Linked DNA regions of Homo sapiens. The protein of the gene in region 2 interacts with the protein of the main gene of each other region in a pairwise test. Each region holds a gene or a part of one and is shown on either strand. Other genes may lie near its edges.

Evidence for each region. Proteins that work in one complex are often made in the same cells at the same time.
Region 1: the proteins of ARL1 (region 2) and GCC2 interact in a two-hybrid assay, tested with the Homo sapiens proteins (one study listed by BioGRID).

What each region holds. Positions count from the first base shown.
Region 1 is NC_000002.12:108,480,206-108,487,205, forward strand, and holds part of GCC2 (GRIP and coiled-coil domain-containing protein 2), read left to right. Parts: intron 1-1,491; coding exon 1,492-1,611; intron 1,612-2,081; coding exon 2,082-2,246; intron 2,247-2,856; coding exon 2,857-2,961; intron 2,962-3,943; coding exon 3,944-4,106; intron 4,107-5,430; coding exon 5,431-5,531; intron 5,532-5,625; coding exon 5,626-5,703; intron 5,704-6,305; coding exon 6,306-6,443; intron 6,444-7,000. UniProt on the Homo sapiens protein: Golgin which probably tethers transport vesicles to the trans-Golgi network (TGN) and regulates vesicular transport between the endosomes and the Golgi.
Region 2 is NC_000012.12:101,404,677-101,412,452, reverse strand, and holds the start of ARL1 (ADP-ribosylation factor-like protein 1), read left to right. Parts: upstream 1-4,680; 5' UTR 4,681-4,807; coding exon 4,808-4,811; intron 4,812-6,471; coding exon 6,472-6,609; intron 6,610-7,776. UniProt on the Homo sapiens protein: GTP-binding protein that recruits several effectors, such as golgins, arfaptins and Arf-GEFs to the trans-Golgi network, and modulates their functions at the Golgi complex.

The DNA.
Region 1 (7,000 bases), on a different chromosome or scaffold from region 2:
AGATACCACCTCACATCAGTCAGGATGGCTACTATTAAAAAGTCAAAAAAATAACAGGTGCTGGTAAGGTTGCAGAGAAAAAGGAACACTTACACTTTTGGTGGGAGTGTAAATTAGTTCAGCCATTGTGGAAAACAGATTCCTCAAAGACCTAAAAACAGAAATACCATTTGACCCAGCAATCCCGTTACTGGGTATATACCCAAAGGAATGTGAGTCATTGTGTCATAAAGACACATGTACATGTATGTTCTCTGCAGCACTATTCATGATAGCAAAGACGTGGAATCAACCGAAAGGCCTGTCAGTGGTAGACTGGATAAAGAAAATTGGTATATATACACCATGGAATACTACACAGCCATAAAAAAAATATGAGATTATGTCCTTTGCAGGGACATGTATGAAGCTGGAAGCCACTATCCTTAGCAAATTAATGGAGGAACGGAAAACTAAATACCACATGTTCTCACTTATAAGTGGGAGCTAAATGATGAGAACACATGGACACATACAGAGGAACAACAGACACTGGGGCCTAACAGAAGGTGGAGGGGTAGGAGGAGGGAGAGGATCAGGAAAAATAACTAATGGGTACTAGGCTTAATACTTGGATGGTGAAATAATCTGTACAACAAACCCCTGTGACACAAGTTTGCCTACATAACAAACCTGCACATGTACCCCTGAACTTAAAAGTTAAAAAATTTTTTAAAAACACCATTTTGCTAGTAATTTTGCAGGCACATTTATGGGAAGAATAGAAGTTTTCCAGAAACAAAGGCAAAAACAGGATTTATAAGGAAGGAGAGAGAGAGAAAAACATAAAGAACTACATGCAGTCTCGAAACTGAATCTCATTTACATATTTTGGTGGATAACCTAATTAGCTTGTGTGTGGCAAGAAAGTCTGATCATTCTGTCCTTCAGTAGGCCAACTAGGAATATCAAAGAAAATTCAGTTGTCTTTGGATTCTTCAGGAAATATTGAAAGTGTCACTGCAGAGTGTGAGAGACTAAATCTGTGAATGTCTTCCAGTGTTCTTTCATTAGCACCTTTACTTTATATTAGGTCAGGCCTGGAATATTTCTCTCATTAGAATTCTTCAGGTGGAGTTAGGTATCCAGGTTAAACTTTTTATCCTCTGTCCTTAAATTGTGTTTATTAAACGTTGTATCTATCCTTAAATTGTGTTTACACTTCAGAAGTTCATTTTTGTTAATGAGTAGAATATTTAACCTTGGAGCTATTATATTGTTTATATTTAAAATTTTCTTCTTCTTTCATATATTTCCCCCACTCTCCAATACTAAAAGTTACCCAAAATGTGCTAGTTTTATTACCTAATGCCAGTTAGGTATTCTGTTCAACTTGGGTAAATATTTTAAGCATCCAGAATGGACTCATGAATCTTAAGGTGGCTTGATGATGAAGTCTGACCTGTTGAATGCAAAATTATATACCAAAGTTAAATCCTTCTTTTATTGAAGAATCTTTTATTAGAATATGAAAAGCAGTCAGAGCAACTGGATGTGGAAAAAGAACGTGCTAATAATTTTGAGCATCGTATTGAAGACCTTACAAGACAATTAAGAAATTCGACTTTGCAGGTAATTTTTTAATAAATCCAAAAATGAAAACTATAACAGGTATATTTTAATCTCAATACTTTTTGCATAAAAAATTTAAAAAATATAGTCGGAAACAGAATTTATTCCCCCCCCACTTTACCCTCCTTCCCACTTAGGAGAGAAGAATAAGACAAAACAGCTAGCAACTATCTTGCTTATTATTCTAATCTCAGTTCCCCTAGAGGGTTGTTTGTTTGTTTGGGGGTTTGTTTGTTTTTCGTTTCTGCTCTTTGCTCTGCCAGTGCACCTGGTCTCTTGTAAGGTTTACCATATTAGTATTTCAATGACAGATTTTAAAACTGATTCTTAATATTATCGTTCTGTAGCATGGACTTGGAAATCTTCATTTGTCACACTATGCCAATATTCTCATTAATGTACCTGTTCATTCTTCCTCTGCTGTATATGTTTTTTGCATGTTTATAGTAATGAATCATTTGTCATTTCAGTGTGAAACAATAAATTCTGATAATGAAGATCTCCTGGCTCGTATTGAGACATTACAGTCTAATGCCAAATTATTAGAAGTACAGATTTTAGAAGTCCAGAGAGCCAAAGCAATGGTAGACAAAGAATTAGAAGCTGAAAAACTTCAGAAAGAACAGAAGATAAAGGTAAAAACAATCCTATGAGATTGATTCACATATATATGATGCATTTACCAAAATATTATTTAAATGAAGGGAAGACTTACTAAGAGTAGCATTTATGAATACAGCAGAGTTCATTAATTCCTTAATACCAACCATAAATTTGAGAATCCATGCTGTGATTTGGGGTGTATATATTTTAAACATTGAAATATTACCAAACTTTTTGTATTTTAGCGTGTCAGATTTATTTTATTTTATTTTTTTGAGACGGAGTCTCGCTCTGTTGCCCAGGCTGGAGTGCAGTGGCGCAATCTCAGCTCACTGCAAGCTCCACCTCCTGGGTTCATGCCATTCTCCTGCCTCAGCCTCCCGAGTAGCTGGGATTACAGGCACTCACCACCATGCCCAGCTAATTTTCCGTGTGTATTTTTAGTGGAGACGGGGTTTCACTGTGTTAGCCAGGATGGTCTCAATCTCCTGACCTTGTGATCCACCCGCCTCGGCCTCCCAAAGTGCTGGGATTACAGGTGTGAGACACCACGCCCGGCCGTCAGATTTATTTTAAAGCCCCTTAAAAATACCTTTTTAATATTGGTTGGGTGGTGTGGGTTGTTTTTATTTTTAATTTCAGGAACATGCCACTACTGTAAATGAACTTGAAGAACTTCAGGTACAACTTCAAAAGCAAAAGAAACAGCTTCAGAAAACCATGCAAGAATTAGAGCTGGTTAAAAAGGTAAAATAAAACACTAGGATCAAAATTGATGTAATATTCACATTGTTCTGTTTTGTTGTTCTGTTTGTTCTGTTCTCTCTGCAATCTCACTCTGTGGCCCAGGCTGGAGTGCAGTGGCATGATCTCGGCTCACTGCAACCTCCGCCTCCCGAGTTCAAGCAGTTCTTGTGCCTCAGCCTTCCAAGTAGCCGAGATTCCACGCATGCGTCACCACACCCGGCTAATTTTTTGTATTTTGGGTAGAGATGGAGTTTCACCAATTTGGTTAGGCTCGTCTGGAACTCCTGACCTCAAATGATCCGCCCATCTCAGCCTCCCAAAGTGCTAGGATTACAGGTGTGAGCCACCGCACTCAGCCTGCATTGTTAAACTATTCTATACATGTTGAAAAGGAATATTTTAGAATGTTACTTGTGGTACTAAAATAATGCTTTATAAATTATTTGCTCAAAAAATTGGAAATTTAACTTACTTCTCTAAGTACCAGTCCTTTCAGAAGAATCTAGGCTCCTGAGTTACAAGATTTTGGTTTGACAGTTCATTTTGTATACATGATTGTTGTATGACACATTAAGATTTAATTAATGTCAAAGCTTGAAATTTGTATTATACTTAAAACTTTGGCTGACTTTACTCCTTCAAAGATGAGGCTAAAAAGAAATGTACTATAAGAGCCACTTGACATATTAGTATTTTATAAATAAGAGCTCCGCAAGCTACAGCTGCTAGTTGTAGTTAGTTATAATGAAATAAAATGAAACTAAGAAAGTTGGGTTAAACTATTAGAAAATATTTTGTGAAATTAAAAAGTAGAAAATATCCAACTCCTCATTTCTTTGTTACAGTGTAAACAATTTCAGTATTACAGAAAAGCACCCATTTATTGCTGTGGCATCATTTTAGCAATTTTACAAATGAAAAAAAAAATTTACAAATGAACTGATCTACTATTGTGTAAATCTTTTACTTATAAAATGTGCAGGATGCCCAACAAACCACATTGATGAATATGGAAATAGCTGATTATGAACGTTTGATGAAAGAACTAAATCAAAAGTTAACTAATAAAAACAACAAGATAGAAGATTTGGAGCAAGAAATAAAAATTCAAAAACAGAAACAAGAAACCCTACAAGAAGAAATAAGTGAGTTAAAGAAAATTCACTTTACTTTTTAATTATTTCATCATAACAACTTGATTTGGTGGGGGGCATTACTTGTTTATTTCACCAGTCTTTCACTGTCAGTCAGGTGTTTAACACAGTGATAAATGTTACTGGGGACCCAGAATGGGTGTAAAACTGTTTGCCATTAAGTTGTTTGTAGTCCATGCCTATGTCCTGAATGGTAATGCCTAGGTCTTCTTCTAGGGTTTTTATGGTTTTAGGTCTAACGTTTAAATCTTTAATCCATCTTGAATTGATTTTTGTATAAGGTGTAAGGAAGGGATCCAGTTTCAGCTTTCTACATATGGCTAGCCAGTTTTCCCAGCACCATTTATTAAATAGGGAATCCTTTCCCCATTGCTTGTTTTTCTCAGGTTTGTCAAAGATCAGATAGTTGTAGGTATGCGGCGTTATTTCTGAGGGCTCTGTTCTGTTCCATTGATCTATATCTCTGTTTTGGTACCAGTACCATGCTGTTTTGGTTACTGTAGCCTTGTAGTATAGTTTGAAGTCATGCTGCTATAAAGACACATGCACACGTATGTTTATTGCGGCATTATTCACAATAGCAAAGACTTGGAACCAACCCAAATGTCCAACAATGATAGACTGGATTAAGAAAATGTGGCACATATACACCATGGAATACTATGCAGCCATAAAAAATGATGAGTTCATGTCCTTTGTAGGGACATGGATGAAATTGGAAATCATCATTCTCAGTAAACTATCTCAAGAACAAAAAACCAAACACTGCATATTCTCACTCATAGGTGGGAACTGAACAGTGAGATCACATGGACACAGGAAGGGGAATATCACACTCTGGGGACTGTGGTGGGGTGGGGGGAGTGGGGAGGGATAGCATTGGGAGATATACCTAATGCTAGATGACGAGTTAGTGGGCGCAGCACACCAGCATGGCACATGTATACATATGTAACTAACCTGCACAATGTGCACACGTACCCTAAAACTTAAAGTATAATTAAAAAAAAAAAAGAAAAAAAAAAGATGTTTGTAGTCCACATTTATTCACTTTAACATTTCTTAAGTACCTTGCTGTTTCCTGGTCTGGGTTAACTAAGATTGTCTATGGGTTGTAATTGTTACAGCCGGGAGTTGGGTACAGTAGAGTTTATGGCACTGTTGTTACTACTGTCACATATGTTTGAAGTATTCCATAATAAAAAGCTAAAACAGGCTTAAAGACAAGCCAATACAAAGAAGACATATTTGTGTATTTAAATTCACTGATAAAAATTGTTACATCTTTTTCTGCTGAAATTATTTCTTGTGCTAGCTTCATTACAGTCTTCAGTACAACAATATGAAGAAAAAAACACCAAAATCAAGCAATTGCTTGTGAAAACCAAAAAGGAACTGGCAGATTCAAAGCAAGCAGTATGTTAATTTTTCAGTTTCATATTTAGTACTTATTCATAATTTATTTATGAGTAACATTAAAAAAAATTTAACCAAGATTCTCATTCTATAGGAAACTGATCACTTAATACTTCAAGCATCTTTAAAAGGTGAGCTGGAGGCAAGCCAGCAGCAAGTAGAAGTCTATAAAGTAAGGGTTTTACTTTTTAAGATTAAAAAAATGTTTTTTCATGTAGAAGTGAGGTACCATTTAGAGATTTTATTGATTATCCTATAACGATATCTAGAAAGATTCCTCAACATTTTGAGGAAGTTACAACAATAAATCAAGTCTGGCATATAACTGGAGTATATTATTTGGCTCAAGCTAGATTATTTTCATGTATTTGGAAATTCATAATATACTATAGAATAGTGCAAAATAAAATAAGCCTGCATCTGAACTAAATGCTATTGCAGTTACAAGGAACAGTTTATAAAATGATTTTATATGTTTGCTATATTTGTGTATATTTTTATATATATAATGTCTTGAAGTATTTAAACATTGTATGTTAAATATGTAGTCTGGGATTTTCTTTTTTTTGAATTGATGTTGGTTTAAGAAAAGATAACTTAGAAAATGTTCTACTTGTCTCTGCTTTTTCAATAATAATACATAAAAATATTTCACTACTTAATTATGCCTTATATGTACTTATGTCTCAAACCTAAAGTTTGTATTTTAAGGAAAACCTCTTTAACTAGTGAAGATAGGATTTGCTAAAGCTAAATTTAAAGATTTACCCCCAGATACAGCTGGCTGAAATAACATCAGAGAAGCACAAAATCCACGAGCACCTGAAAACCTCTGCGGAACAGCACCAGCGTACGCTAAGTGCATACCAGCAGAGAGTGACAGCACTACAGGAAGAGTGCCGTGCTGCCAAGGTGCGTTCTTCAGGGCAGCCACAGCAAGCCACTGGGATTTTATTATCAGCTAGTCATTGGTTTACTCCAGGGCTGTGCTCTGCCTTTTTAGTATTTTCCTGTTAAGAGCACTTACTAGATTAAGACCTGTTCAGTTAATCTGGCTTTAACCCCAATCCCATGCCAACCCTAATCGTAAGTTGGATCACTTTTTTTGCCAAAAGGAAAAACATGATGTTTTTTCCATTTCAACCTTGTTTTGCAATTTATGTGTCACTTATTTATAAAACTTTTTTTATTAGAAACGTGTTACAGTTCTTAGGGCTAAATGATTATAAAATAACATTTTAATAGCATGGCTGTGGGGGCCTACTTTCTTGTCATCATCCAAAACAGAGACAGTGCAGTGGTTGTGTTAGATGCAGGTCTTATTTAAGCAATCCTGGCAACACTGTTGTGGGAGTTTACAGATCACTTCAAGAAAGTGGAAGACCTAGAACTTAACACTTAACCACCCTGTTTTGAAAACTGAAGTTCAAATAACTTAATTTCTGAGTTAATTTTTCTCAAATTTATAA
Region 2 (7,776 bases):
TATTTAGAAAACCCCATCGTCTCAGCCCAAAAATCTCCTTAAGCTGATACTTCAGCAAAGTCTCAGGATACAAAATCAATGTGCAAAAATCACAAGCATTCTTATACACCAATAACAGACAAACAGAGAGCCAATTCATGGTTGCAATTTTTAAATAGGATGACATTTGAGGTGAGATCAATTCTACATGGTTGTCTAAAGAAAAAAATTCTAAAGACTTTAAAGAAAAAAATTCCAAAGACTTACAATCTAAACATTTAGTTTTGACCAGGTGCAGTGGCTCATACCTGTAATCCTAACACTTTGGGAGGCTGAGGCAGGAGGATCACTTGAGTCTAAGAAGTCAAGCTCAGCCTGGGCAACAGAATGGGACCCCATTTCTATGAACAAATTAAAAATTTTTAAATTTGCTTTTCACGCCTGTAGTCCCAGTTACTTGTGAGGCTGAGCTGGGAGAATCGCTTGAGCCCTGGAGGTCTAGGCTGACATGAGCCATGATGACACTACTGTACTCCAGCCTAGGTGACAAAGTGAGACCCTGTCTCAAATAAATAAATACATAAATAAATGAAAACCAAACATTTAGTTTTAATTCTAGCATGATGCTATAATTCTACTTCCTCAAAGACTTCATTTTAATAAGTAGGAAACTATAATACTAGGTCAATATTAATAGGAATGACTACATTTTGAAAAGCAACATTGCCCTAAAGATATGTATCTTTCCTACAGAGTAATGGCTGTCATTAGTTAGAATCATAAAATATACAGGAAATGGCAGTTTTGTTATTTTATTTTTCAACACCTTATCATGACCTTTATGCATTTGCGTTCCTATAAAAGTAGGAACCTTGCTGTGGTCATAAACTGAGAGAAGCAGTGGTGGAGGTGGGATGTAATCACCAATAAAGATTAGCTAAGTTTCTCTTGGCTATTTATGACTTTGTTAATTATAAATTTGTCTCAACACTTTTATTCTTTTTTAAAATTTTTTAAAATATGGAACACTTCAATTTGCATGTCATTGTTGTGCAGAGGCCATGCTAATCTTCCTTGTATTCTTCAATTTTAGTGTATGTGCTGCTGAAACAAGCTCTCAATACTTTTTTAAAAAACCTTGAGTATTATGTGTTGATAACTATTCTATTTCATGTGCGTTGGCTCATTAAATCTCTTTATTCAATGTCTCAACACTTTATTTATCCATTTATTAGCAAAAAGGTCTTGCTCTGTTGCCCTAGCTAGATCGTAGTGGCTTGATCATAGCTCACAGCAGCCTCAAACTTCTGGGCTCAAGCAATCCTTCTGCCTCAGCCTCCGAAGTAGCCGGGACCACAGGTGTGTGTCACCAGGCCTGGCTAATTACAAAAATAATTTTCTTTTTTAGATACGGGGTCTCATTATATTGCCCAGCTGGTCTTGAACTGCTGACCTCAATCTATCCTTCCGCCTCAATCCAAAGTGCTAGGATTACAGGCATGAGCCATTGCTCTGGCCTTTGTTTTGTTTTCAATGCCTGTAGGGAATTAGGTCAGTTCTTTACTAACAAAGCAAAGCATTATATGATCAAATTTTGAAAAATGAGAATTTTTGATCAAAATGCCTAATGGGTCTTTTTTAGTCTTTATTACACTGTTATTTCCACAGTGACTTGTAACTAGGTGCTTAATATAGATTCTGAAAGGCTGTCAATACATTTAAATTTGTATATAGTATTTCAGTTTACAAAGCATCGCGATATATATCTCATTTATCTGGTTCAGAATATGTAGTTTGAATACACAATTATATTACAGCACATTTTTCCTTTCAGTTCTATTTTATTTATTTTTTTGAGATGGAGTCTTGCTCTGTCGCCCAGGCTGGAGTGCAGTGGTGCGATCTCAGCTCACTGCAACCTTCGCCTCCCGGGTTCAAGAGATTCTCCTGCCTCAGCCTCCCGAGCAGCTGGCATTACAGGCACCTGCCACCACACCCGGCTAATTTTTGCATTTTTAGTAGAGACAGGGTTTCACCATGTTGGCCGAGCTGGTCTTGAACTCCTGACCTCAGGTGATCCACCCACCTCGGCCTCCCAGAGGGCTGGGATTACAGGCATGAGTCACCGTGCCCCGCCTCAGTTCTCTTTTAAAGGGAATCTGTATTTTCAAGAATTACACACATCATACTCAAATATAAATCTGACATTGACCTAAGTTTGAAGTAGTAATGGCCAAGATCTTTCAAGCAGCAGCAAACTAATCTTGTTTAAGAGGAGGTATTATAGAATCATAAGCACAGAGGTCCAATAATTAGACCACACAGTGCTTACAAAGGATAGCCTTAGAAAGGTTCAGGTGTTTAGGTAGAGCCCTTCTCCCCTTCTCAAACCATTAACAAAAATAAAAATAAACAAAACAAAACTTTTCCTTGCAGGAAAATTTCCGTGAACCTGTGGTTTTGGGGGCAAGGATGAGAGCAAGAGGCAAAAACTAGTTCAGAACCTAGACAACTAGTGGAGTCTGCAAACAAATCAAAACCAAGATAGGCATGGTTGGTGAGCATGTAAATTGGTATAGCCACTATGGAAGGCAGTATGGAGGCTCCTCAAAAAATTAAAAATAGAACTACAGTATAAACCATATAGTATATACCATATATATCATATATGCATATGTACCATATATACAATATATACGTATATACCATATATTCTGGGTATATATCCAAAGAAAATGAAATCAGTATGTCAAAGAGATATCTGCATCACCATGCTCATTGCAGCATTATTCATAATAGCCAAAGTATGGAATCACCTAAGAGTGAACTGATGGATAAAGAAAACGTGAAATGTAAAAATGTGGTATATGTATGTATATTTATATATATAATGAATACTATGCAGCCTTTAAAAAGAAGAAAATCCTGTCATTTGTGACAACATGGGTGAATTTATGCTAAGGGAAATAAGCTAGGCACAGAAACACAAATACTTCATGATCCCACTTATATGTAGAGTCAAAAAAAGTGGAACTCATAGAATGAGAGCAGAATAATGGCGGGATCTTGGCTCACTGCAACCTCTGCCTCCCAGGCTCAAGTGATCCTCCCATCTCAGCCTCTCAAGTAGCTGGGACTACAAGTGCCACTGTGCCTGGCTAATTTTTTTATTTTTTTGTAGAGATGGGGTCTCACTATGTTGCCTAGGCTGGACTCCAACTCCTGGGCTCAAGGGATCTGCCCGCCTCGGCCTCCCAAAGAGCTGGGATTACAGGCCTGAGCCACGACACCTGGCCGACCTTAAATATTCTTAGCACAAAATAAACATATACACACAAGCACACACGACTATGTGAGGTGATGGGTATGTTATCATTTCACAACATATACAACTATGAAAACATCACATGGTACACTGTAAATATATACAATTTTTATTTAAAGCTAGAAAAATTCTTTTAAAATAAACTAAAAAGGCAGTCCATAAGCTTCTGTTGAATGGATGAAAATCTCTACCATAAATAAAAACATAATATGCAAAGGTATTAATAAGATTTGGAAGAAAACCTAAGAGAGTATTAACAGTAGTGACTACTGGGGATCACCGAGATACAGGGTATTAGGGATGGAAGGTTTACTTTTCTCTTTTTTTTTTTGAGACGGAGTGTCGCTCTGTCGCCCAGGCTGGAGTGCAGTGGCACGATCTCGACTCACTGCAACTTCTGCCTCCTGAGTTCAAGTGATTCTCCTGCCTCAGCCTCCTGAGTAGCTGGGACTACAGGCGCCCGCCACCACGCCTGGTGAATTTTCTGTATTTTTAGTAGAGACGGGGTTTCACCGTGTTAGCCACGATGGTCTCGATCTCCTGACCTCGTGATCCGCCCGCCTCGGCCTCCCAAAGTGCTGGGATTACAGGCGTGAGCCACCGCGCCCGGCCGGAAGGTTCACTTTTCAATGGATCTTTGGGAAGTTTCAAAACATACATGCTCAACCTTTAAAAATTTCTCTAGGGGAAATCCCTTCTCCACATCCTATAGGTGTGCTTCCTTCTTCCTCTCCACACACTTCACTATCAAAACCTACATTACTTCCAACAGTCGACCCTCGAGGGAATAAGTCCCTGGTCCCCACGATCGGGACCAGCCAGTCCACACTGCCGACCCCTGAAAGGCGGTCTCAGCTGCTCGGTCAGCGAGAAAAAAAGCCGGCGAGGTCCTCGTCCTGCAGGCCACAGCGAAGACAAAAACCTCTGGTTACTGGCCTCAGGTGCAAGGCTGCTCCGCATTGGCAGCGCGGTACCATTCCTATTATTATTACGTAGTCTTGTTTCTTTCTGGGAGAAAGCACCTAGGGAGAGTTGGGCTGGCCCCGCAGGGCGCTCCGGGACACGCGTCCTCTGCAACGCCGCAGCCTGCGCCAGCGTTCGACCGGGACGACTCATCGAGGCCCGACTCGCATTTTCAGTTGTCAGATTCGCCACTTTTTGGTGTCAGAATTTAAAACAAAAATTCCAATTTCTCTATTTCAGAAGCTCTTTCTGTCCAGAAAAACACAAGCAGGAGAGACTTCAGGTTTTTGAATTATTCGTCTCTTCTGGCCTCCACGGTATCTACATCCAGTGAGCGGGGACCGTGAGTCGAAAGCGACGACGCGGATGCTCAGGCCACCGTTCCCGGCGCGCAGTCGCAGCTGACCCTCGCTCCCGCCCCCGCCTGGAGTCCGACGTGGAAGTTGCTGGCTGACTGGGCTTGCGAGGAAACCGCCTCGGAGCTGCAGCCGAAGGCCAAGGAATCACTGAAGATCGGCGAGGGAGGACAGGGGGTTCATCATGGGTGAGGGGTTCGAGAAGGGCACCTGGGCGCGCTCGAGGGAGCCGCGGCCGAGGGCTGGGGTGCAGAGGAGGAGAGGGGCCGGCCAGGATACCCTAGAGTAGCCAGCTCCTCAGGGGGCGGGTCGCGGAGGACTTGACTCACTTTGGATCTTCATCTGTAGGGGTGGATCCGGCCTCTCGCGTTCTCCTCCGTCCTCTCTCGGTTCCCCTTGATTCCTGCGGGGTCCAGGGACCCGGACAGCTTGGGGACGTCCGCAGAGCCTGGGTTCGAGTTCTTTACCCTTATCATGAAGTTTTCCCTCATCCCCAGCTCCACTTGCTGGGCAGAGTTGTTCTTGCGGAGGCTGGCAACGCGTCAGTCGCAGGTTCGCCGAGGTTTCTTGGTGAAAGATGAGCTGCGGCCCCAGAGTGGAAGCTTAATCATTCTCTTTACCAGGGGCGCTGGGACGGCGTCAGTTTGAAAAACCTGAGAGCAGGTGTTGCTTATGTTGTTTTATGGCCAGTTTGGCATTTGTCTGCTAATCTGCTGTAGCGTTTCATGTAATAATACGGGTATTTCTAGTCGGCAAATGAAACTTTATTCTTGGTTCTTGGCCCGCTGATTGAGGGAACTGCATTCTCACAAGCATCAGGTAACACCCTCGCCCCGCTAGAACCCAAGTGAGGGTGCACATTCTTTAACTCGTTTCTCACCCTCCAAATGAAGGTGCAGATTCTTTGGCTTGGTTAAATCCCTCCACAGTTTTCTGGGGAGCATACTTCTTGCTCCCAAGCATCACAGGCGCTGTCCTGTCTTCCATAACCGCCTTCAGTTTTGTTCCGCCTCTCTTCTACCTGTAAATGGTAGAAAGGACTTTGTCAAGTCACACCTATTCTGTTGAACTTTCCCAAGGTTCTCTAGCCCATGGTGTTGTTCATTTTTCAACTCGCAGCTCTTAGTTATGCCATGTCTTTGCCAAATAACAGTGTGGCATCACTTCTGATGTTAACTATTTTTTTTTGTATTAATGTAACTTGTTTTTAATCTTCTCTAATGGCTCTGGATGGGAAAAGGACTGTGCTTTTTATCCTACACAATACTTGGTGTACAGGAAGCTTTCTGGGAATATTTTGTGATGCATTGGATAGAGCTTTATTATTTTTAAAAGTGGGTTTTTTGTCAAAAATAGTTATTGTTTTCAGCTTTTTTCTCAATTTCTTGTACTAGCTATATTGCTTCGTGGAGAACTCTGATTGAAGTTGGTTATAGTGGTACTGCTGCTGTACAGTACTTTTCCTGTGCGAGGATTACATTGTCCCACTATCCTCCTTACTGGCCCCTTGGTTTTTAGGGGTAGTGAGGGGATCATGCTAAAATATTCCTATTCTGCTGATTAGAAAATGAGATTCCCAAAGGCCGCGGCCATATTTCTCTTATTATTTGGTTTATCTTCTGTGCCTGCATGACACAATAGTAACATAACTAAGGACATAGTAACATAACTAATTACTTGTTTGATATTGAATAATATATTTCATTGGGAGGAAAAATATGCACCTACGCATCCAGGAAATTATAATATTTAATTTGGTATTTAGCTCTCAAAGGACAAGGTTAGATGTTTTGTATACCTAGTTCACAAAATGACATTGTGTATGTTTTTTCTTTTATTATTTTTTAGGTGGCTTTTTCTCAAGTATATTTTCCAGTCTGTTTGGAACTCGGGAAATGAGAATTTTAATTTTGGGATTAGATGGAGCAGGAAAAACCACAATTTTGTACAGATTACAAGTGGGAGAAGTTGTTACTACTATACCTAGTAAGTGTTGGTATGATGAGCTAATTGTAGGGACTTTCTGGTCTCCATCCAACATAACTATTTCTTTCTTTCTTTTTTGTTTGTTTTAGTAGAGATCAGGTATCATCACTATGTTGTCCAAGCTGGTCTTAGACTCTTGGCCTCAAGTGATCCTCCTGCCTTGGCCTCCCAAAGTGCTGGGATTACAGGCATGAGCCACTATGCCAGGCCTATTTCTGAATAAATTAATTCATATAATAAAGTATTTGATAAAGTTTGTAAACTGCTAGTATGAACATAACATTGATAACACTTTTTCCATCAACTAAGAGGCAGCTTAGTGTAATTTAAGGACCCTTGTTCTGGTTTACGGCCGGGTTGGGCTGTTTATAGGTTTAAGTTACTAAATCTTACTGAGAGCCAGTATCTTTACTAATAAAATACATAAGATAACAAATACCCACTGGTTTTCAGGGGGAAATAAACAAAGTAGGTAAAAGTACCTTTTAAATCTGTGTAAAGAATTATATAAATGTTAAGTGATGTTACATGTGAAGTGCCTTTTTTTCCTGTATTTGTTACTATTTTAATTAAGATTAGTTTATCTTAGGTAATTATATTGATTACTTTTAAAGATCTGAGTTGCAGAGACTGAGTGTTGAAGTAATTTGGTACCTTAAAAATATCAAGAGAAGGCCGGGCACAGGAGCTCACGCCTGTAATGGCAGCACTTTGGGAGGCCAAGGCGGGTGGATCACCTGAGGTCGGGAGTTGGAGACCAGCCCAACCAACATGGAGAAACCCCATCTCTACTAAAAATACAAAATTAGCCAGGCGTGGTGGTGCATGCCTGTAATCCCAACTACTCGGAAGGCTGAGGCAGGAGAATCGCTTGAACCTGGGAGGCAGAGGTTGTGGCAGGCCAAGATTGCACCATTGCACTCCAGCCTGGGCAACAAGAGCAAAACTAGGTCTCAAAATATATATGTGTATATGTATATATTTATTAAGAGAAGAAATACCTCAATTTTAATCAATTATTACTGTCTTACAAAAATATTCTCCAACAGTCTTACTGACTATATGAGAATACTGTTGTTATTTATACTTTTTTCATTTGTTGCCTTGAATTTACTTAGAGAAGAGTAGTACATTTAAATTAAAGAGTTCATACAGTTTGCTCAAGAT